7 separate regions of the Homo sapiens genome follow, and all the other regions are reported to be linked to region 2. Evidence: microRNA targets listed by miRTarBase, many of them from high-throughput screens and not tested one by one. Region 2 holds a microRNA gene; each other region holds the end of a gene's coding sequence.
Evidence for each region. Region 2 holds the annotated microRNA hsa-miR-15a-5p (UAGCAGCACAUAAUGGUUUGUG, at 1,724-1,745, opposite strand). A microRNA usually pairs through its seed, bases 2 to 8, with sites in the 3' UTR of a target mRNA and lowers its output. Matches are read on the target gene's strand: a 7mer-m8 pairs with bases 2 to 8, a 7mer-A1 pairs with bases 2 to 7 and ends in A, and an 8mer does both.

Region 1 (3,097 bases), not on the chromosome of region 2:
GGGTCAGAGCAGAGAGGCGGTGGAGTCGTCTCCCTCTAGAGCTTTCCTTCGCTGGCTCTGCAGGAGGCTCTGGAATGCTGCTCCGGGAGCCCGCTGGGCACGGGGACACAGGCCAGGCCTGCACTGCTGCTCCCTGCCCCGAGCTGCCTGCCCAGCCCGCATTTTGCCAACTTTTGTGAGCCTGAGCAGTTGGTTCTGGTTCAAGGGCTCTGAGCTGGCACAGCCCCAAACCAGGGCCTCTTCCTGGGCCTCAATGAAGCATGCCCGTGAGTCAGCACTGAGACGCAAACTGAACAACAGGCAGGGCGAGTGGAACGTGGGATGGGGAGCAAAGGCTGGAAGGAGGGGGGCTGGGCCCACACCTGGAAGAACCCACATCCTTGCAGCCTCCGGTGGCTGCAACATCTTGGCCCCTGCAGATCTTTTCAGAGGTCCAGCACAATGACTCCACAGAGGGCTGACTGGTTCCATGATGCTTAAGAGGTTAGGAAGCTTGTAGGAGGCACGCCTGACTTGCCACTCCCTCCACCCAGGCCTGACTATCTGAGGACCAATTCACACACCTGGAGCCCCGAGTAGCAGCCTGAAGGAATGCTAAGGAGGTAGGTGAGGGAGTGGGGGGCAGGCCCTTGCCCCCATTTCTTGATTGTATAACACTTCATTAAAATAAAATCACGCAGTGCCATCTTTTATTAGACATTTTAATACCATATCAAAACACCTTGACTAATGAAGAAAGCTTTTCTCCCAAGCTTTGAACATTTTTTTAAACATTTTATAAGTTTTTTTTTGTATTTTAATATATAAATACAGAAACCTATCTTGCATGGGCTGATGCCACGTGTGAACATCAATGGCTAAAATGTTCTCAAACATAGTGCCTGAAAACAGGGGTAGCTGTACATATTTCTTAGTAAGTCTTTTTTTGTTTAAGTTTTCTGAAAAAAAAAATCCACGAGGGCCTAAGAATAATGTTCAGGCATTTTTGCAGGACACTTGTGATTGTTAAATCCTCTGAACTGACCGGAACCAGGAGGAAAGAAGGGAAAAGAGATGGGATCAGTAGGAAGAAAGTTCTCAATGGGTTGTTTTTTGGCAATGAAGTCAAGATATTAGGGTCTCAAGGGGAGAAAAGAGCAAAAAACCAGCCAGAAAAATAGAGGGAAAAAACCAAACAAACCCAAAGTAGAGAAGTTGGTGGTGGAGAGGGCCAGTTGGGGCAGGGGAAGAGACCGTGTGCTCGCCCGCCGTCAGAAGGCTGGCAGCGAGGCCTTAGCTGTGTTCGTCTGTCACTGAGTGGGTTATGGCTGGGCAGCAAACAGCAAGCTGTAAACATCACGAGGGAAAACACCAGTCGACACTAGACTTTTTTTTTATATAATTTTTTTTTGTAAACACTTTAAAGACAGACCCACAATGCCTTTCAAAGATGAAAAAGAAAATGCCCTTTCCCTCCTGGGCTGAGGGGTGAGGGGAAGGATAGCAGTTGATTCATTCTTCTCTCAAACTTGCTCTCATCCAATTTGGTGTCCTCAGGGAGGAAGGGAGAACCATGATCTGGAAGTCAGTGCAGAAGGGGTGCCCTGTTCCCGCTGGTGTCCCAAGCTCAGCTCTGCCCCAGGGTCCGGTGAGCCTCCTCCCTGGAGCAGGGGCGCTCTGTCCCTGTGTGGACCGTAATAAATAAGTCGTGCTCCATCGGGCCGAGGGCTGTCTGCTCATCCCAGGGCAGCTGCATCCCAAGAGGGCAGGCGGGGCTGGGGCGTCTACACAGGACCCCAGAAGCCAAACAGCACACGGGGAATTTGCAGCCATGTGCCTGGGCAGGTTCTACTCCCCTGCCTCACTCTCCCCCCTGGCTCTTTCTTCTCCCCTTGTCATCAGTTTTTGAGGTGGAGGTAAAAAGAGCAAATGTCCCTGATTTGTCTGACATCATCAGCTGTTCTGGGAGTTTACTTGGAATAAATAAAATAAACCTAACAAAAGAAAACGAAAGCAAGAGAGAGAGAAAGGGAGGGGGGAAGAAAAAGGTCCCAAAACCTTTGGCTGTGAGATGGAGTTGGGCTTTTGGTTTTTATGGGGGTTTTGTCTACTTGTTTGCCAGAAAAAGGAAAATGCCAGCCCAGAACTTGGAGGGGACAGGTGAGATGGGGGTCAGGGGTGGATGGTTGGCAGCAAGTGGGGTACCCCTGGGGGAGAAATGGGGAGGCCAGACCCAGCGGTAAGCCAGGGGGATGTGTGGAGTCAGCACCCAGTGCTGTGGGATAGAGGGATCGAGTCTGGCCTGGAGGCCTCAGATTCATCTGGAAGCGGCATGGGAAGAAGCAGTGGTCAAATGATCGCTGACCAGCACTTTGCAGGGAACAATGCACTGCCCATGGCTGTTTAGTAAGTGCAATGTCCTTATGGCAACAGGGAGTGAGATTATCCCCGTTACCATAGAAGAGGCGGAGACTCAGAGGTGAGCGAGGATGAGGCCAAGCCAGGCACAAACCCACCGCTCAGGCTCCTTTTCCTGCCCGTGCACATTCCCAGGGGATATTCCTGAACTTTCTTTAGGAATGTAGATTGTACTGGTCTCTTCCCCAACTGATCCTAACTCTTCTGAGCCTGTTCTTCATAACTGTCCATGTTGGTTTGTATCTCTTGTCCTTCCCAGGGAAAATCATTTCCGGATGACTAACTGCTCACTGATGAGGTGCTCCTTCCCTCTGCTCCTGCTTTCTTCTCAGTGGCATAAGGGCAGCCCGGCTCCCTAAACTGCAGGCCCCCAAAGTGACCTGACCCCAAGCCTTGAGCCCGGAGCACCCCCAAACGCGGGCTCACCTTTGAGAGGAGTCAGCAAGCAAGCCCGCAGGTCAGTCCGCAGGGTGTTCCGGACAAGATCTGTTCACTTCAAACCACGAGTCTATGCAGCTGGGAGGAGGGGGCCGCAAGGGAAACCACGTTACCTGCTGCCCAGGCTGCTTTGAAGGGGCTCTTTCAGAGGGCCAGATTCCTGAGCAGGAGCTTCCTAAGTCTCTTCTGAAAGGACCCCAGGGAAACACAGTCATGTCCCCAGATATCCCTACTTTCTGAAGCACGAAGAAGGGTGAACACC
Region 2 (3,097 bases):
AGTGAGACCCTGTCTCTATTTTTATTTATTTATTTAGTTTTAATTTTTACATTTTAATTTATTTTTTTGAGATGGAGTTTCACTCTTGTTGTCCAGGCTGGATTGCAATGGCGCGATCTGGGCTCATTACAACCTCCGCCTCCCCGGTTCAAACAATTCTCCTGCTTTAGTCTCCCGAGTAGCTGGGACTACAGGCATGTGCCACCACGCCCGGCTAATTTTTTGTATTTTTAGTAGAGATGGGGTTTCACCATGTCGGTCAGGTTGGTCTCGAACTCCTGACCTCACGTCATCCACCCTCCTCGGCCTCCCAAAGTGCTGGGATTACAGGCTTGAGCCACTGTGCCCAGCTCTACTTTTCTTTTCTTTTTTTTTTTTTGTTGAGACAGAGTCTCCCTCTGTCACCCAGGCTGGAGTGCAGTGGTGCGATCTCAGCTCACTGGAAGCTCCGCCTCCCAGGTTCATGCCATTCTCCTGCCTCAGCCTCCCGAGTAGCTGGGACTACAGGCGCCCGCCACCACGCCTGGCTATTTTTTTTGTATTTTTAATAGAGATGGGGTTTCACCGTGTTAGCCAGGATGGTCTTGATCTCCTGACCTGGTGATCCGCCTGCCTCGGCTTCCCAAAGTGCGTGAGCCACCGCACCTGGCTGTCTACTTTTATTTTTAATAAAAAATTTTAAAAATACAAAAAAGTAAAAAAAAAAATTAAATTATGTTGACATTTTATATCAATAAAACTACAATGATAATTTGGTCTTACTCTGAGTTAAATCTTGAATACAAAAAAGTAAACAAAGTAAACAAGACCTTATTTTTGACTTATCAAACAAAAATCTTTGGCTAAGGATTTAAGAAAACATTTTAATAAAAACATGAAAAAAATAGTATACCATTATAAAGTTAGAAGACATAAGACTAAGACCCCAATCTGTGATGTGTAGCAAATTATTTGAGTTTTGTGTTTCCTTAGCTATCCAATGAGTGGGTTGGTCACTTGTAAGGGTTTTTCTACCTTTAAAGTTATGGTTAAGTGTGACGTTTTGACAACCAGAATTTTAGGTATTTAATTCACATATTTTGATGGCTTTTCCCCTTCAGATATAAAGAAATATTCAGAAACAGTACTAAATATTGTCTTCTAAGCTCTGTTCAAAATGCTTAATATATTTTATATTTATCTGTAAAGACATATTTTAAAAGTAATTTCAAAACAAAGGGAAAACTAGAATTTGTTTTATCCCAAGTAAAAATCTGAATTAATGTCTATGTTGAATATAAATGTGCATTAAAATAAATTCCTCTAATGCTGCATAAGCTTTTTAAAAAAACTTGATGGCATTCAATACAATTATTAAATTGCAATTACAGTATTTTAAGAGATGATACATCTGAAAAATTAGTATTAATTCATTTTTACAGAATCATACTAAAAATAACAAGATTATCAATAATACTGAAAAGACTATCAATAAAACTGAAAACACATTAGTAACATTAATATACATTAAAACACAACTGTAGAGTATGGTCAACCTTACTTCAGCAGCACAGTTAATACTGGAGATAATTTTAGAATCTTAACGCCAATATTTACGTGCTGCTAAGGCACTGCTGACATTGCTATCATAAGAGCTATGAATAAAAAGAAATATATTTTCTTCAGAAGATCAGATCCTTGTATTTTTGAGGCAGCACAATATGGCCTGCACCTTTTCAAAATCCACAAACCATTATGTGCTGCTACTTTACTCCAAGGTTTTATTTTTTTTAAACACACATTCGCGCCTAAAGAATATAAAAAATATTTTCTTTCAGGAAAAAAAGAATGCATGTAAAAAAATCTATGTTTAAACATTATAACATTGATGTAATATGCATAATTATTTTTAAGGAGATTTTAAGTAGAATAATAAAACATTTCTACATCAAAAACTTAACTGAAGTCCATTCTGTGCCCAGCACAGTGCTATAGGTTAGGAAACACAAAGAATAAAATGAGGAAAAGAAAAGCATTTATTTGCTATGCCAACTTAACAGGGCAATACAACTAAATGCTTAAACTTTTGAATATATTCAATATATGAAGTTATTTTTCCTTGTATAAACAAACAAGTAAATTTATAAAATTTGATCTTTACCTTGGTAAAAGGAGAATTTACAAACATTTTGTTCCTTGCAGTACACCTTTCAAAAGACATCTTCATCAAATAGGTAAGACTTCACATCAAGGGAAAAACATGAAATGACATACAAGAGCTCAGTTTCAATAAACTTAAGCTAGCAAAATGCAAATATACTTTTAAAGAAAAATACTTTAATTCTAAATGTTAATTTTATTAAATATCTAATTAAGACATTTTAATTCCAAATATAGTTAAGAAAAAAAGCTCTAAACAAACTAATTCTCCCTTAAATAATTTGTTATTAATAATCTAAATATTTTACTTTCAACATTGATCTTCATACTAGAAGTTCTCTTAGAGTTGGATATCATTTGATACAGTAATTCTAAAATATGAATCCTTAAGTAATTCTAAAATATGAATCCTTGGGATGATGAGTTAATTTGGTACCCTGAGATGAGAAATAAAACAAATCCCATAGCTCTTAATCTTCCTATTCCCTGTTTCTGGCCCATTTACCAGGTAAGGAAGAAACTCCTAGTTTCCACTTTCTCAGATGTAGAAATGAAATTCCTTTTCTCTAAAAGATATCAGAAAATTGCCACCACTCTAGTGGTGCCACCATTCAAGCCTGGACAATCTTTTTTGCCCCATGTTCTCATCATTAAAATGACTATGCTAAAGTTACATCTATTACAGAATAGTAAGGTGATGTACACAACCAAAGCACTAAAATTTGCTCTTCCATTCTAATATCTAATTACTTATACAAAGCACAGGGTCACATTCCATATGAAATTTTTCTGAGTATTTTTCCCATTAATAAAAAATATATGTAGCTAATCTCCTATCTAAGCAACCTGGATTTCACATATAACTCTGCTCCTTATTGTCTCAAGTTTCTGCACAACGTTTTTTAAATTTTTATTTTTTCTTTTTTTAAGAGAGTAGTTTCCGTATCTTTTAGAGAAA
Region 3 (3,000 bases), not on the chromosome of region 2:
GGAGATCCTGGGAGCCCCAAAGGCTCACATGGCAGCGACGATGGAGAAGAGCCCCAAGAGTGAAGTTGTGATCACCACAGTCCCTCTGGTCAGTGAGATTCAGTTGATGGCTGCTACAGGGGGTACCGAGCTCTCCTGCTACCGCTGCATCATCCCCTTTGCTGTGGTTGTCTTCATCGCCGGCATCGTGGTCACCGCGGTGGCTTACAGCTTCAATTCCCATGGGTCTATTATCTCCATCTTTGGCCTGGTTGTTCTGTCATCTGGACTTTTTTTACTAGCCTCCAGTGCCTTGTGCTGGAAAGTGAGACAAAGGAGCAAGAAAGCCAAGAGACGGGAGAGTCAAACAGCTCTCGTGGCAAATCAGAGAAGCTTGTTTGCTTGAGACTGAATACGACCAAATGGGCCATTGGGCCTGGAAAACGTGCTCTGACTTTGTCACCCAATTCACCCAGAACCATGGTGGGAGAGAACAGACTTGGCGTTGGAGCAGACTGGAAGAATGGGGGTGGGAGGGTGGAGGGGCTTCTCCTTTGTGAGGAATGACTCATGTCTTCTTTAACGACAAACTTAACCCTAAGGGCTACTTCTGAGACTGAAAAATCAGCTTTCTATTTACATGAAACACTTTGGGGGTCATGGGAGTGCACAGCATTAGACAGTATTTGGTTCACCCTGTAAAGTAGCCAAGAAAAGATGAGAAAAATCAAGATAGGCCTGGCACACTAGACATTTGCCTCCAAAAGAAATAACCTACAGTCTTAAGATGTATCATAAAAATGTTCTGCCAAGGATCTAAATTACCTTGGGTTTCGCATATGTCTATGAAATTCTGTGATAATTTTTTTCAATACATTGATTCACTGGCGTCTGTTTTCATTTTATACTTTTAATAACTCATCACTGGTGGTACTTTATCTTGAAAAGTAATATTTTTTATATTTTAACATTGGACAGTGTTAGCCAGTTGTAATGATGTATCAGAAGTAAAGAAAAACCCATTAAAGTTATAGCTAATAGATGCTGTTGGGGGTTAAATTAATAGTAAAATAATCCAATATAGCACTTTTGATGATTTTTATATAAAAGTCAACTGTACATTTCATTCAGAATAATAAATACTTATTGCTGCTAAAACTTCTTAAATGGTTGTTTCTGCTATAGTTATTTCTATTGCAGTTCCAAATTGCCATCTTCCCTTGTCTCATTTGCAAGTTCTCAATTGTATTTCTCTCAAATGGACAGGTTCCTTCTTTACTGGAGGATTTTTGTTTTTATCATATTGGTTTTTCATTACTTCTGAATAGTCTTAATTACGTTTACTAAATTCTAAAGGATTTCTGTGCTATTATAATTAGGAAATCAACGTCTTTGGTCAGGAACTTTATAATGTGCTATTAAATGTATATTACATTTTTGTGGAATCAGTTGTTAATTATTTGCTTAACACGTATGCCAGCACCAACTATATGCCAGGCATAATGTAGATTCTCAGGTTTCTTACTCAGTTAGATCTAATACAATGCAAATAAAGTTACTGCTTGAATTCTTCAGTGGACATTGAGCTAGTCCACAGCTAGGACTCTACCCTGTAACTCCAGCCAGAAATACAGCTCATTCATGTAGTTTAAACCACCTTAAGCTAGAATCGAAAGATAGGCATGAAGGTTTCTTAAAACTTGGAAAACAAAATCAGCCTAGCATAGCACACTCATTGAAAGTCTTTCTGTCCAGAAATTTAATTAAACATGACAGGAGCCCTGGGGCCCTTACTACTCCCTCATGCTCAGGTAGTTTTGGTAAGTGGAAACACCCTAAAAATGACTTTGCAGGTCAGATGGTGTCACGTACAGATCAACATTCCTCCCAACCAAATGCAAGTTTAGGGGGCTGTGCTCATTTCAATGCAAGTGAGTCTGTGCCTTCACATGCCTCTTCTCCGTGCAAAGATACTCAAAGCCCACCCCCCACCCCGCCACCGCATTGCTGTATTAAGAAATTACTCAGACAAGGTTCAAGATTCTCCAGTCTGATCCAAAAGGACGTATCCAGTTTTCATACTCACTCTAATCCCCAAACCTCCTTATGAGTTAGCCAGAATAGACTATTCACCATTCTTGCACCCGACTTTGGTTTTCCTGCCTCCATGTCTGTCCAAACTTGTGTTTTCCCTCGCTTATAGTGCCATTGTTTCCTTGATTTTAATCTCCCCAAATCCTGCTTCTCATCAGCACTCAGCTCAAATGCTACCTCTTCCCGGAAGTCTTCCCTTTTATCTGAAAGTAAATGCCCTTTCGTGAGTTCATCTTTTATTCTCTGATGGCATCTTTTATTTTCTGTCGTGTTGGTGGCATAAGTTTTATCCTTATTCCAAAGCTCCTTAGAAGTGTGTGATAGATCCTCTTTTTAACCCTAGTGAAATGCCTAACATAATGGCTTACGGAGATTAAGTACTCAATAAGTACCTAATTAAGGTGCTAAATGAGCCAAAAAATAAAAAATCAGAAAGTGAATGGTTTATCCAGAATTATAGTCCATTCTAATCTCGTTAAAGAAAAAAGTTTAGTTCTCATTTTTCCCCCAAAGAGGCCATCTCACTCTCTATTACACCTCCACTGTAAGCAGCAGTTGGAGGCGAATATTTACTCTCTATTCTTCTCTAGCCTGACCTGGCCTTCAAAATGCTTGAAAAGCAAACTCATGAATTATTTCCGGCCACCAGGGGGCCCCATGCAGCTACTTGAGTCCCAGAAGAAACAGTTCTATGGAAAGACCTAAATTGTAATAACCAAAATGGGATCAAATCTCTCCTAAACGTGAGGAGTTGGTGGAGATTCTCCATTTATCCCACCCTTACACACTTCCCTAAGCCACTTCACAGTGGCTATCTTGGGGTTCTGTTAGTACGGGAAAGACTTGCTCCATTTAGGGAGCTTCTAGTCACATTAAAAGGTATATACTGTTACATAGCTGCACGGCGCAGAGATAGTTCTACACACT
Region 4 (3,097 bases), not on the chromosome of region 2:
ACTGAAACCCAGCTTAAATAAGCAGATAAGCGAGGTAGAGTGGGTTAATATTAGTCACTGGAAAACTTCTATGTAGAAAATGCTATAAACATAAATGTGTGAGGCACAGAAAATCTTTATTGCCACAGGAAGCAAGTGCATTCGTCCCACCTCACCAACAGCTTGAAGAGTCACAAAAACGTGGACATCGCACAATAAAGTGTAAGAGACTCGGGGAGAAATGGTCCCTTGGACTATATTGGCTGTAATACTGAGGTAACCAATTGACCTTGTTCAGTGAAAATACCTCTAACAAAATGAAAAAATCAACTAATTATAACTTCCAATTCACATATACAATTCAAATAAAAATATATATTATTTGCTTTAATGTATAGCAAGTTTAATACATTAGTGTTTACAAAATAAAAACTGTATTCTACTGAAATTTTTCTTGTGCTTCCACCTTATCACTAAGCTTGAAAGACTAGAAACATAAGATAGTTAAGGAAACTTATTATGAATTTAAAGATGCAATCTGTGGGTCCACAACGAATGGATAAATATTGGAAGTTGGAAGATTACTGCATCTTTTAAAATTGTGGCTTATGAAAATCTACAAACTTGACTGTAAGACACAATTAAAAAAAAACAAAATGTTTCAAAATAGATTAGAATACAGGAAACGTTTCATGAAACTACTGAGATATACTAACCAGTGCTATGGCTAATATTAAAAACTGAACAGTCTATTGAAATCGTACTCATACTATTTCTACACACAGTGAACAATACAACCACAATAATCAACCTCAAGCTAGCAACAAAGTTGCAAGGTCCATAAGAAGCTTCTTCAGTGAGCAAAACACTATGGTACAATTAAAACATTTAGGAAGGGGAAAAAAGCCTTTTAACAGTATAAAAGTTGTTTACTGGCGTTTCCTACTGTAAAGTACTTCTACAAATTAAAATGAAGAAGCAATTTATATACGTGACAGTGATCTGAGACTACAGTGCAGACATTTCATCTAACATTTGGCTGACAAATTTTAGTGTAACAGATTATGACTTAATATTTTTTACAATTATGATCTAGAGCAGAACTAAAAACAAAAAAACACATACTCTCTTACACTCAGAGTCAATACACTCTTCTCAGTAATATCTGGGTTTAGATGCATCTGTAGGAAGTAGGTAAAGCTGTCAGTTATCTTCTCTTAAACCAACAGAAAAAACGTATATTGGCAGATGTATGTTGTTTTACCATTATGAATTCCAATGTGAAATTCTCATAAGTATGCAAGTAAATTATTAACATGTAAGCACACTCCCATATATATGCACATGGTCCATTAATTAAATTGGGGGAACTAAAAACATACTGTCAAGTTAAAATAAATTTTAAGAAAAAACTGCATTCATAAATCTCAAAGGTGTAGAAAAATGAAATTGTAAAATAAATAATGAATATAGCTGTCAATTAAACTTCCATAGAAATATGCCTACAGATGTGGATGCAGTGATTGTCCACATTTGTGATGGCTGGGTGGGAAGACATTCCCTAGTGAAAGCATCTAGTCTCTCTGACTTCTCTACATAGAGAAGACTTTCTGGATATAAAATAGTACTTAATCTGTTACAGCCTTTGTTAACAGTCGCCATCTTTATAACATGTAGGGTTAACTTACTGTGTCTTAATCTATTTAACACATTCTGAAATATCAATGTTTAAGTCAAAGCTTTTATACATGGGTCCACTTATTTCAAGTTCTCTGTCCAAGCAATAGCTTCCTATCTTTGAAACATCTTAAGTAGCTATTAATACAATCTAGGTCAACTAGTTTAAGATATATTTTCTACTCTATTGCTCATCTTTTTAACTTTCCTCCACTCAAGTATTTATTGTGTAAACGTGCATTGATAACCAGATGTTATATGACTGAATGCTAAAAATTTCCTGTTAAACAAAATCAGTTTTATCAAATATTAAATCCACAATATTTTCCTTGGCTTAAACTGAGTATTCGCTTTCTATTTTTCCATAATCATTGCAATCTTGCCAATAACTGCATCACTTAAGCTTTCTTTTTCACAACTGCAGGCAGATTCTAAACTCTGACATATATTTACGTTAAACACACAAAGTAGACAACAAAATTTCAAGTAAAATAAACTGTATCCACATCTATTAGACCAAACAGGTCTCAACATCTAGATTTTACTTCTATAAATTACACAAATACATTGTACATTCTTAAATAATGAATGCTTACAATATTGATTTGTAAGCCTTTCCATATAAAATGACTTAACACAGGAATGTGAATGAATCAATATTACTGTTATAGATTGCAACACTCTTGATTTTCTCTTTTGTGGCTGTTGTTTTATCTTCCTGGTTTCCACAGACTACCGTACCAGTCCTTTTGCTTTGGCTATGAAATCTGTTTGAGCTGAATGAGGCAACACTGGTTATTAAGGCTTATTTCTATGATGGAGTATTATCCTTAAATCTGATGCCATTTCCAGAGAACGGTGAGAGAAATCACAGCTATCTTGAATCTTCAGGCTCTGTTTTGATGACTTTCTTTTCTAAGGTAAAAGCTGAATGAGGGTAGTCTTTTAAAATCCCAAGGCTCTCTACATAAAAATGGAAACAAAGTGAGTTGATATTTTAATCAATGGACTACAAAAATCAAACAAAGTTTTAAAACAAACCCCCAAACTCCATATCAAATAGTATCAACTATTCATGATTCTGTAATTCCATGCAAAATTTTTGTTCATAGAGCTGTTAAGAGCTTGGATTCTGGATTTAAATTTCAACTCTGCCAATTACTAGATGTATACATATAGTATACATATATGTATAGATGTATACATCTCTGGGCAAGTTATACACCTCTCTAAGCCTTAATGTCTTCATTTATAAAATAGGAATAGTATCTACATAAAGTGGCACGAAAGTTAAATAATGAAATGCACATAAAACATTTAGCATATAGAATATATTAATTTTTATTTAATGCTTGATCCAACATGATAAATATATAAAAGGAAGCTGATTATTCATAAATAACTGTTACTGGTTAAAATATTTACCATCAATGAAGGAATC
Region 5 (3,097 bases), not on the chromosome of region 2:
AAGAAACAAAAATGAAGAGGCAGAAATTTTTTTTATATCCTCTCAGTGTGATACCTATCTATTTTAAATAAATTAGTAGTATAATGTGGAAGGGGCCTGGTAGTGTAGCACACAGTTCAAACCAAGTATACCATACTCCTTTCTCAGTGTTATTCTTTGATCTCAAACTACAACAAAATTCTTTTTAGAAATGAAAACTTCCTTAATCTAAACCACCTCATCAGTATAGAAATACCAGAGACAATATTTTTGGTCAGAATGAACAAGCATTTGTACCAGAAGCTGAGAAGTCAAACCATGAGAGGCAGGTGATTATATGAAAAGCCTGGTTGTGAGGTCCATGAATTAAAACATCTTAAATTTATACAGCGATTTCCCTTGTACAGTTCAACTCTCTAAGGCAGGCTGAGTAAATATTAATGCCCATTTCACCTATAGGGAAACAGATGCACTACTGCTTATGTACGTCAGTTCATGAAAAGCAGAACTCTGAGTCAGGCTTATTTATGGCTGCCTCATCATGTTCTGTTCCTCAGATATAAAAATTAAAATGAACAAACAAACAACAACCACAACAAAAACAACGGCCTAGCACAGTAGCTCATGCCTGTGTAATCCCAGCACTTTGCGAGGCCAAGGTGGGTCGACTACTTGAGCCCAGGAGTTTGGGACCAGCCTGAGCAACATGGCAAGACCCTGTCTCTAAAAAAAAAAAATAGAAAAATTAGCCAGGCATGATGGTGCATGCCTTTAGTCCTTAGCTACTCGGGAGGCTGAGGGAGGAGGATCACTTGAGCCTAGGAGGTCGAGGTTGCAGTGATCTGTGATCCCAGCACTGCACTACAGCCTGGGCCACAGAGCAAGACCCCATCTCAAGAAAAAGTAGTAATAATAATAATAATTTCGATTAAAACTGACCTTGGAAATAATGTAACATAAAAATTATTTTGAAAATAGCCTTTGGTTATAATTTTCAGTGTAACTGTTAATATGACAAAAGTTTTGAAGACTATTTTTTTTAAATGGCTTGTTAAACTGAGTTGGATAGTTGGATTAAGCATTTTCTTAACAATTAATACACCAGGGTGCTAATTATTTTAGAAGGCTCTTCTGTTAGGGTTTATAATTCATCATGTCATACCATACAACTTGTACTATATTAGCCTTTCTTCTATTGATTCATGTCAGCTGACACTAACATAAACCTTTTTGTGACAAGTTAATTAAATTACCATTCATTACCATCCAACTTAAATATAGTTATCTTGACAGTTATAGCAGAGCTGCCAAAAGAGAGAAACAAACTCTTCTAAACTTTATAATAATTAGTGAAAATTTCATATTAGTGAAATAAAAAGGATAGTTCTCATCTGTTTGGCTTCATAAGTCTTCTATTCTCTTTCCAAAGTTTTACATTTCCTATCAGTTACTTTCCTAATGTCATACTAATTTTAAATTCCGTCTTTTCTCCTGTAGAGCCCTTTTAAAGGTGTTCTAGAAAAACTACTAATCAACTTCAAGGTTTATTGAACTTTTGTGTTTTAACATTTAAAATACAATAGAAATGTTTATATTTTCTCACATTTTACTGCACAATACAAAACTGATTTAAATGCATTAAGAAACAACATTTTGTTTTTAAATAAACACTAACAAAATGTTTGGCAAGAGATAACACAATTTATTTAAATATATTCCGACTCAAGATGAAGGCAAGCGGTTTACCTAGAAAGGTTTACATATTTTAGCTATAGTTTTTCATTGAACCATTTTTTTGAAATGTCATTCTTTTCATTCATGCTTCTTTTATCCTCTTGCTTTAGAAGTTCACAGTGTTATATAAGTGAAAAACAAGACAGATAGAAACCACCCTAAACATATGGCTTTATGTACATAAAAAATTCAATAATGTTGCCATAACCCCTAATACAGTGTGATCCTTATTTATTTATTATCCAGAATAAACTTCTGTACCTATTAAATTCTTCAAGTATATCTAGAGCAGTGCTTGTAAAAGTGAGGTCCCACTGCTAAGTTAATGGCCATCTCTTTGAAGATCACTTCTACCTTCAACATAATTATGGTACAGTTCTAATAGTTTTTTTAATTTTACATGTATCATACATTCTCAAATATTCCAAAATGCTCAAATGAGCCAAACATATACTTTGATTTACATCTAGTTTAATATTCCCTTTATACAGCACCAGAGGTTAAAAATGGATCTGAGTAACCAAATATTCTCTTTCCTTTATTAGTTAGAGTTTATCATCATTTATTTCTATAACATTAAACCCAAATTGAAGATGAAGACACCCTGGGTCAAATGCTTTCACCTTAAATAAATAAACATTTCATCCACTTCATACTTAAATACCAAGTTGTTTTCCTATAACATATGTTTCTTGGTAACAACTACTGAATCAACTAAGCTGAACACCAACTTCTTATCTTTGAGGACTAGGCAAGTCGGATAGGATTCTCTAGGTTTGCTTTAAAACTTTTAAGAAACCTGGTTGCCAGTTCGTCATCAACCACTCGACTGTCACTTGACATTGTGACTGTTATGAGCTGGCGCTGCTGCAGTTTGGCATTTCCCTCTTCATCCTCAGTGAGCTTCAGCACAGGTCGGAACCTCCCAACCGCCAAAATGCAGGCCTGAGGAGGGTTAATCACTGCAGTAAATTCGTCGATGCCAAACATCCCCAAGTTGGAAATACTAGGGGGAAAAGAAAAAGCTCTGAAGGAGGCATGTCCTTAATCAAAGTCCCCTTTCCGTGAAGCACATATTTTATATATTTTACTAGGCAGTGTAGTAAGGCAAGAAAAAAATATATGAGTAATGAAAAAAGGAAACATTTAGTATTTACAAATAAATTAATTGTGTACACAGGAAAAATGAGACTATAGATAACTAGTAAAATTAATAAGTAAATTTAGTTAAGTCATCAGATAAAAGGTCAATATAACAATCCATTTTATATCGAGTCATGTCCCACATAACGAAGGATCACATATACAACGGTGGTCTTATAAGATTATAATGGAGCTCAGGAATTTCTGCTGCCTAGTGGCATCATAGCTGTCATAACATCAT
Region 6 (3,097 bases), not on the chromosome of region 2:
GAGGGATGAGAGGGCAGGCAGATGAGGATAGCCACACAGGTATACGCAGTGTTGCCTGATGATTAAACCTGACAACTATTTTGGGAACTGAGATTTCAGATACACTATTTAGAATTTAGACTGGCAGCTTCCAAAGATTACTGTTCACTTGAGTTTGTAAACTGGAACCTCTATAAACTTTAGTGCACCTGATCTGGCTCTAGAGTACACTTTACAATGCATTTAAAAATAAAAACAAACAAACAACAAACTTCCACAGATTGCCCTTTCGGGATGTGTCATTTTTAGATGCTCATTCTCCATTTGGTGCTACCATATAAACCCCTTGAAAAGTTCAGGGGATTCTTTCTGATAATGATCAGAAAAGGGTGAGGCCTGGGATATAGCGGGAGCAGCAAAAAAAAAGTTACTCTCCTCTTACTGAAGATACTCTTCTGAGAACTTCCATTGTCCCTTAGGAGGAAGGAATGGAATATGGAAGTTCCAGAAGATACTGCTGCCTTCCGAAGATAGTTACAACAGGATCATAACTATGAACCCTAAGATTACTTTTTTTTTTTTTCCTTTTTTTGAGACAGAGTCTTGCTCTGTCGCCCAGGCTGGAGTACAGTGGTGCAATCTTGGCTCACTGCAAGCTCCGCCTCCCGGGTTCACCCCATTCTCCTGCCTCAGCCACCCACGTAGCTGGGACTACAGGCGCCCGCCACCACGCCCGGCTAATTTTTGTATTTTTAGTAGAGACAGGGTTTCACCGTGTTAGCCAGGATGGTCTTGATCTCCTGACCTTGTGATCCACCCGCCTCAGCCTCCCAAAGTGCTGGGATTACAGGCGTGAGCCACCGTGCCTGGCTGAGATTACTTTTTTATGTAGCACCTGCCTTGCTTCTGTGTCTTATAAAGACACAGAATTCTTACAAAGCTATGAAACAGAGTCAGGAAAAATTACTCATGGCACTTAAAGATGTTTAGAGACTGTAAAATGCCTTCATTTTTTTTTTCTCAATGCCCCTGTGAGGTAGGTGTCTGTGGGGAAAAAGCTGAGGCACGGAGGGGTTAAGTCTGCTCACCTTTTCATTGCATGATGAGCCAGTGGTCCAGCTAGCAGGACCAGGTGTCCCAGCTCCCTAAACTTTATTCACCCTGCTTCTCAGAAGGCTTATTTATGTTACACAACAAATACAGCAGGGGAAAGTTTTCTTTTCATACATTTTAACTAGTTGGCTATTTCTTATTCTCACCTTGAACATAAGTTATCTCAGATAAAACCAAATAAAAACAAAACAAAAAAATCAATATTGCCTAACAGTCTGTGTCAAATGCAGCCTATTCTGCACTAGTGATTGAAAAAGCACAGAATATGATTCAAGTAGAAGTATTTGTGGGTGCTATGGTGTTCCTGTTGACTCAAGCCAGGCTGTGAGTAAAGTGTCGCTTTAGACACTACCCACTGTACTTTGTAAGAACTTCTTTGGCCTGACACAAGGGAATAAATCTACCACCCCTGTTTCATGGTGAAACCATATTCTGAAAGATATTCTACACATGCTGGCCCTGCCTGGAAAGGGGACTCTCAGCCGTGTGATGTGTATTACCGAGTTCATGCACAACTCTTTGAAGCTGGACATGAAGGTCACAGTCTCCTGACATAAAGCTCACAGGACAGTTCACACTACGGACAGAGGGGCAATACCACAGGGTACATGCACTAGCACCATGCCACAGAAGTCAAAGAGAAGGACAAGAAGCCACCACACAAGCATCTTAGAGTCCCATCTGGTATGCCATTTGCAGAGGCTACCTCTGGTAAGGGGAAGACTGAAGAGGTCCTGTACTCCTTTCCATAATAAGAAGAAGGATCAAAACAGAGCACTCATTGCTGGCTGCTTTGAGCATACCGCCTATCCAAATTTCACCCCTACATAAGTTGGTAACTTTCCTTGTAGATATTCAAAGATAATATATGTCATTTCTTCATCAAGAGAGAATCATGTCAGGCAAAATTCAAAAGTTAGTTACAAGACGTGGATGCAGGGCTCCAAGGCAATTTACACCACTACTCTTGGAATCGAATTCATGAGTACTCAGGGCACTAGCTTTTAGACATGCAATACTTCTTTTTGAGACTTTTCTTTCCCCTATAGTATCTAAAATGTAAATTCCACTCATATCATGACCCCTAAGTCTAATGGAAGATCAGATATTTGGTTTCAGGGTCTGAAGTAAATCACAATACCAAATCAGATGCATGTATCTATGAATGCTTTTTGCCTTGATATTAATGCAAACGCCTGCCCTCCCAAGGCCTGTCCTCCCCTTGAGCTCATCTTCCAGGGGGCTGAGCCTGCTCCGTCCTCTGCATATGCAGGACCAGAGGGAATCATTCCAACTCAGAGTTTCACTGGGATACTAGGATACAGCATAGCAGCAATTCATGCACTTTATTTCTAAAAACCAAAGCTCAGGCTGAGCTGGTCACTGTGCAAGATGAACCAGCAGGACATTCTCGCCTCGAATGAAAATCTGATTTATGTGTCGAGTGAATACCTGCTGGTAATCCACTTTGGGCTTTCGCTTTTTCTTACGGGACTGGCCTCTGGAAAGGGTGGTAGCCCTGGAAAAGGTACCTCCCACACTGGAGCCGTCTGTCCGTGTAGTCCTCCCTGACAGCTCTGACCTGGACTCCTCCCTTGCAGAGGCCTGCAGGGAAGAAGGGACAGAGCGGGAACGCTTGTGTGAGCCCCGGCCAGTGTCTGCTCTTCCCCACACTGAAGCCAACTTCCAAGTGGATGTCTGTGAGTATCTAGACAGAGTGGAATCTTCAACTGCAGACTTAGAATCTGCTTCCTTCTTGGAGGAATCTTGAAGTTTCAGCCGATCAAATAGCTATAAAGCAAACAATGATAAATATTAGCCTTCTCTTTAGCCTTCATCACCCTCTTTCAACATACAGAAAAAGACCAAATTCTTTAATTATGTTCTGTGGACTCCTTGCTTTGCAATTTTTTAAAAGTTAGTAATAAATCTTTTTTTTTTTTTTTTTTTTTGGAGACGGAGTCTCACTCTGTCGCCCAGGCTAGAGTGCAGTGGTGCGATCTCA
Region 7 (3,097 bases), not on the chromosome of region 2:
TTCCCACTATCGTCCGCACAGCACTGCCATCTCCCCACACCCTCCAGGAAGTTCAGGTCGCCATCATAAACAACTCTATGTGCAACCACCTCTTCCTCAAGTACAGTTTCCGCAAGGACATCTTTGGAGACATGGTTTGTGCTGGCAATGCCCAAGGCGGGAAGGATGCCTGCTTCGTGAGTGTCCTTGCCACCACTCCCAGCCCAGGAAAGCATCCTGTGTCCCTGTGCCTTATTTGACCCTCATGCCAACCCCGGGAGGTGGAGACTGTTGCCCCACTCTGCAGATGCAGAAACGGAGGCTTGGCTGCTGCCAGGGGGAGGAGGAGGATGTGCACCCAGTCTACCCAGCCCCATAGCCCTTCCCACTCTCAGCCCCTCCCCTGCCCCACTCACTCTGCCCCAGGCTGACCTCAGCCCCGCTGCTCCCCAGGGTGACTCAGGTGGACCCTTGGCCTGTAACAAGAATGGACTGTGGTATCAGATTGGAGTCGTGAGCTGGGGAGTGGGCTGTGGTCGGCCCAATCGGCCCGGTGTCTACACCAATATCAGCCACCACTTTGAGTGGATCCAGAAGCTGATGGCCCAGAGTGGCATGTCCCAGCCAGACCCCTCCTGGCCGCTACTCTTTTTCCCTCTTCTCTGGGCTCTCCCACTCCTGGGGCCGGTCTGAGCCTACCTGAGCCCATGCAGCCTGGGGCCACTGCCAAGTCAGGCCCTGGTTCTCTTCTGTCTTGTTTGGTAATAAACACATTCCAGTTGATGCCTTGCAGGGCATTCTTCAAAAGCAGTGGCTTCATGGACAGCTCATTCTCTCTTGTGCAGACAGCCTGTCTGTGCCCCTGGCTCACACCCACATCTGTTCTGCACCATAGAACCATCTGGTTATTTCGATCAGAAAGAGAATTGTGTGTTGCCCAGGCTGGTCTTGAACGCCTAGGGTGGTCTCGATCCTCCCGCCTCACCCTCCTGAGTAGCTGAAATTATAGACGCACATCATGCTCAGCAATGGAACAGGAGTAGTTCCAGGGTGCCAGGAGCTGGGAAGCCTGGATTGGGGGTGTGTGCATTGGAGGAAACAATCCTGACATCCCTCACCCCACAAGGATCCGGCACAGAAACGCCAGACATCCTGATCTTACTATGGTTCCCCCAAGGCTGACCTAGGACCAGGACATAGGTGCAGGTAGTTTATCTGGGAGGGGATTGCAGGAAATGGGGAAACCGAGGCAGGGAAGGAAGGAACACCAATGAGCTTACACAAACATAGAGGGTACCATTCTAGGCAACTGGGGTGCAATCCTGTGGGGGCCTCAGCGTTGGCCCACTGAGGACAAGGACACCACGGTGGGCGTTTCTCTCTTGACCACTCCCCCCACCATGTTGAGAGTAGTTCTGGGGCACGGGATGCCTCAGAGCTGGGGCAGCCCCGAGGTGAGGCTCTGAGCACCCAGAAAGTAGGCAATAATGGTTCCCCTTGTGGGACTCCAGCTGGCTCCAAGTTCGAAAATCATGGTCCTCCCTTAGCGATGTTTTTATTTTTTTATTTTTATTTTTGCAGTTTATTGCATAAAGGAATTACACTAGTTCAAGTTAAAAGCAGACCTCAAATGGTTAAATTAGACAAACTGTGAGGTTTTAAAACTTGTAACAAGGGAAAGAAGGGAAATTCTACTCATTACAGGGAAATCCTCACTTAAGTTTCAGTGAGCCACAAGTAGTTAAAACCCTTGAACCATCAGCAGATCGTCCTTAGCCAGTCCCACCTCTACAAGGAACTGGCATATGTTCTTGCGCTGGTCACCCTGTAGCTGAATGACTTCTCCATATTCTGGATGCTCAATTACCGTCCCATTGCAGGGAAATTTCCTCTTAAATGCCTTCACTAGTTGCTTTTTATTGTAATCCTTAGTGATCGCTTAGACAGTGCTAAGGGTTTTCCTGTCATTTCTCTGTTAAATCCTTGCATGGATGTATTCCTCAGTGCCTGCAGGGAGCAGGTCATCACTCTTACTTAAATCAGCAAAGGGGTGGAAGAGTGGAGATTCTGGACAGTGGACATACGAGATGACTCCTTTTCCTCAGTGGAAACGGGCAAAACTCGGGCCAAGGCGCCAACAGCCACAGATTTCCAGCCAGAAAAACAACACCCCAGAGATCCTGTAACATTACGAAGGCTTTGGAATGTCATATTTAAATTGTTTATAGATCAGTTTTATCATCTACCTGTAGACTATATTGGACCCTAAATTCTAAGTTCCTCCAATCCAGTTTTCTCCTACGGAATTATTAAAACTGGAAGCTGCTCTTTCATAAATGCCCTGCGAGCTAAAACAAAACAACTTAACATAAATATCAAGGGACAAGTATTGTGCCTGATGTGTGGACCGCACAGAGTTCACCAACCATCCAAGGCCATAACCAGAGACATTTTAACTGCAAAATTGCCGGCTTCATACTGCAGCTTTTCCCAAGACCATCAAAACGAGATTCCGTATCATGGTGGTCCACTTACCTCTCTTAATGCGCACCTTTCTCCCTTGACAGGATAATGTGTAATTAAAATTTTACAGCCAGTAACTGCTTTGGGTAACTTAACAGAACTGGACCTAAAAACATGCTTCACTCCACCTAGTGGGTAACTTTGGCGATATCGCTAACACAACTTGTTCAAATTGTACTAGTGGTCCCTTTTATAGAGTTGGCCCTGTTTTCTGCTTTATTTCAACCCAGTCATGAAATGCTACTTAATGGCTACAATAGCTTTCAGCCAGTTTGCCTGTCATCCTTTTTTTTTTTTTTTTTTTTTTTTGAGACAGAGTCTCACTCTGTCACCCAGGCTGGAGTGCAATGGCACGATCTCAGCTCACTGCAACCTCCGCCTCCCTGGTTCAAGCAATTATCCTGCCTCAGCCTCCTGAGTAGCTGGGAGTGCCATCATGCCCAGCTACTTTTGTAATTTTTAGTAGAGACGGGGTTTCACTATGTTGGCCAGGCTGGTCTCAAACTCCTGACCTCTCGATCCACCCGCCTCGGCCTCCCAAAGTGCTAGGATTACAGGCGTGAACCACCATACCTGGCCTAGTTTTTTGTTTGCT

Region 1: the mRNA of ZNRF1 is a reported target of hsa-miR-15a-5p. Seed matches in the 3' UTR shown: 7mer-A1 at 577-583.
Region 3: miRTarBase lists TMEM100 as a target of hsa-miR-15a-5p. Seed matches in the 3' UTR shown: 8mer at 1,127-1,134.
Region 4: the mRNA of NAB1 is a reported target of hsa-miR-15a-5p. The part of its 3' UTR that is shown has no 7-base or 8-base seed match.
Region 5: miRTarBase lists PDHX as a target of hsa-miR-15a-5p. The part of its 3' UTR that is shown has no 7-base or 8-base seed match.
Region 6: the mRNA of LSM11 is a reported target of hsa-miR-15a-5p. Seed matches in the 3' UTR shown: 8mer at 2,420-2,427 and 7mer-m8 at 391-397.
Region 7: miRTarBase lists PRSS21 as a target of hsa-miR-15a-5p. The part of its 3' UTR that is shown has no 7-base or 8-base seed match.

Annotation. Positions count from the first base shown.
Region 1 is chr16:75,106,298-75,109,394 of GRCh38, reverse strand. ZNRF1 (zinc and ring finger 1) reads right to left here. Exons shown (of 5, transcript NM_032268.5): 4 at 2,824-2,913; 5 at 1-1,662. The coding sequence ends at 2,856. Among named protein-coding and RNA genes, the nearest start is that of LDHD, 8.9 kb to the left of the region's middle. RefSeq lists enhancers at 106-185, 216-365, 1,560-1,729.
Region 2 is chr13:50,047,444-50,050,540 of GRCh38, forward strand. It overlaps MIR15A (microRNA 15a), which reads right to left and starts at 1,758; the gene lies at 1,676-1,758. DLEU2 (deleted in lymphocytic leukemia 2) reads right to left here. Exons shown (of 14, transcript NR_152566.1): 6 at 2,141-2,219. It overlaps MIR16-1 (microRNA 16-1), which reads right to left and starts at 1,618; the gene lies at 1,530-1,618.
Region 3 is chr17:55,718,051-55,721,050 of GRCh38, reverse strand. It overlaps TMEM100 (transmembrane protein 100), which reads left to right. Exons shown (of 2, transcript NM_018286.3): 2 at 1-1,424. The coding sequence ends at 385. Among named protein-coding and RNA genes, the nearest start is that of TMEM100, 3.3 kb to the left of the region's middle.
Region 4 is chr2:190,689,767-190,692,863 of GRCh38, reverse strand. It overlaps NAB1 (NGFI-A binding protein 1), which reads right to left. Exons shown (of 10, transcript NM_005966.4): 10 at 98-2,619. The coding sequence ends at 2,531. Among named protein-coding and RNA genes, the nearest start is that of NAB1, 42 kb to the right of the region's middle.
Region 5 is chr11:34,994,536-34,997,632 of GRCh38, reverse strand. It overlaps PDHX (pyruvate dehydrogenase complex component X), which reads right to left. Exons shown (of 11, transcript NM_003477.3): 11 at 1,505-2,719. The coding sequence ends at 2,461. Among named protein-coding and RNA genes, the nearest start is that of MIR1343, 54 kb to the right of the region's middle.
Region 6 is chr5:157,754,640-157,757,736 of GRCh38, reverse strand. It overlaps LSM11 (LSM11, U7 small nuclear RNA associated), which reads right to left. Exons shown (of 4, transcript NM_173491.4): 4 at 1-2,883. The coding sequence ends at 2,473. Among named protein-coding and RNA genes, the nearest start is that of LSM11, 12 kb to the right of the region's middle.
Region 7 is chr16:2,820,934-2,824,030 of GRCh38, forward strand. It overlaps PRSS21 (serine protease 21), which reads left to right. Exons shown (of 6, transcript NM_006799.4): 5 at 22-176; 6 at 433-786. The coding sequence ends at 672. It also overlaps the pseudogene EIF1P4. Among named protein-coding and RNA genes, the nearest start is that of PRSS21, 5.2 kb to the left of the region's middle. RefSeq lists an enhancer at 1-100.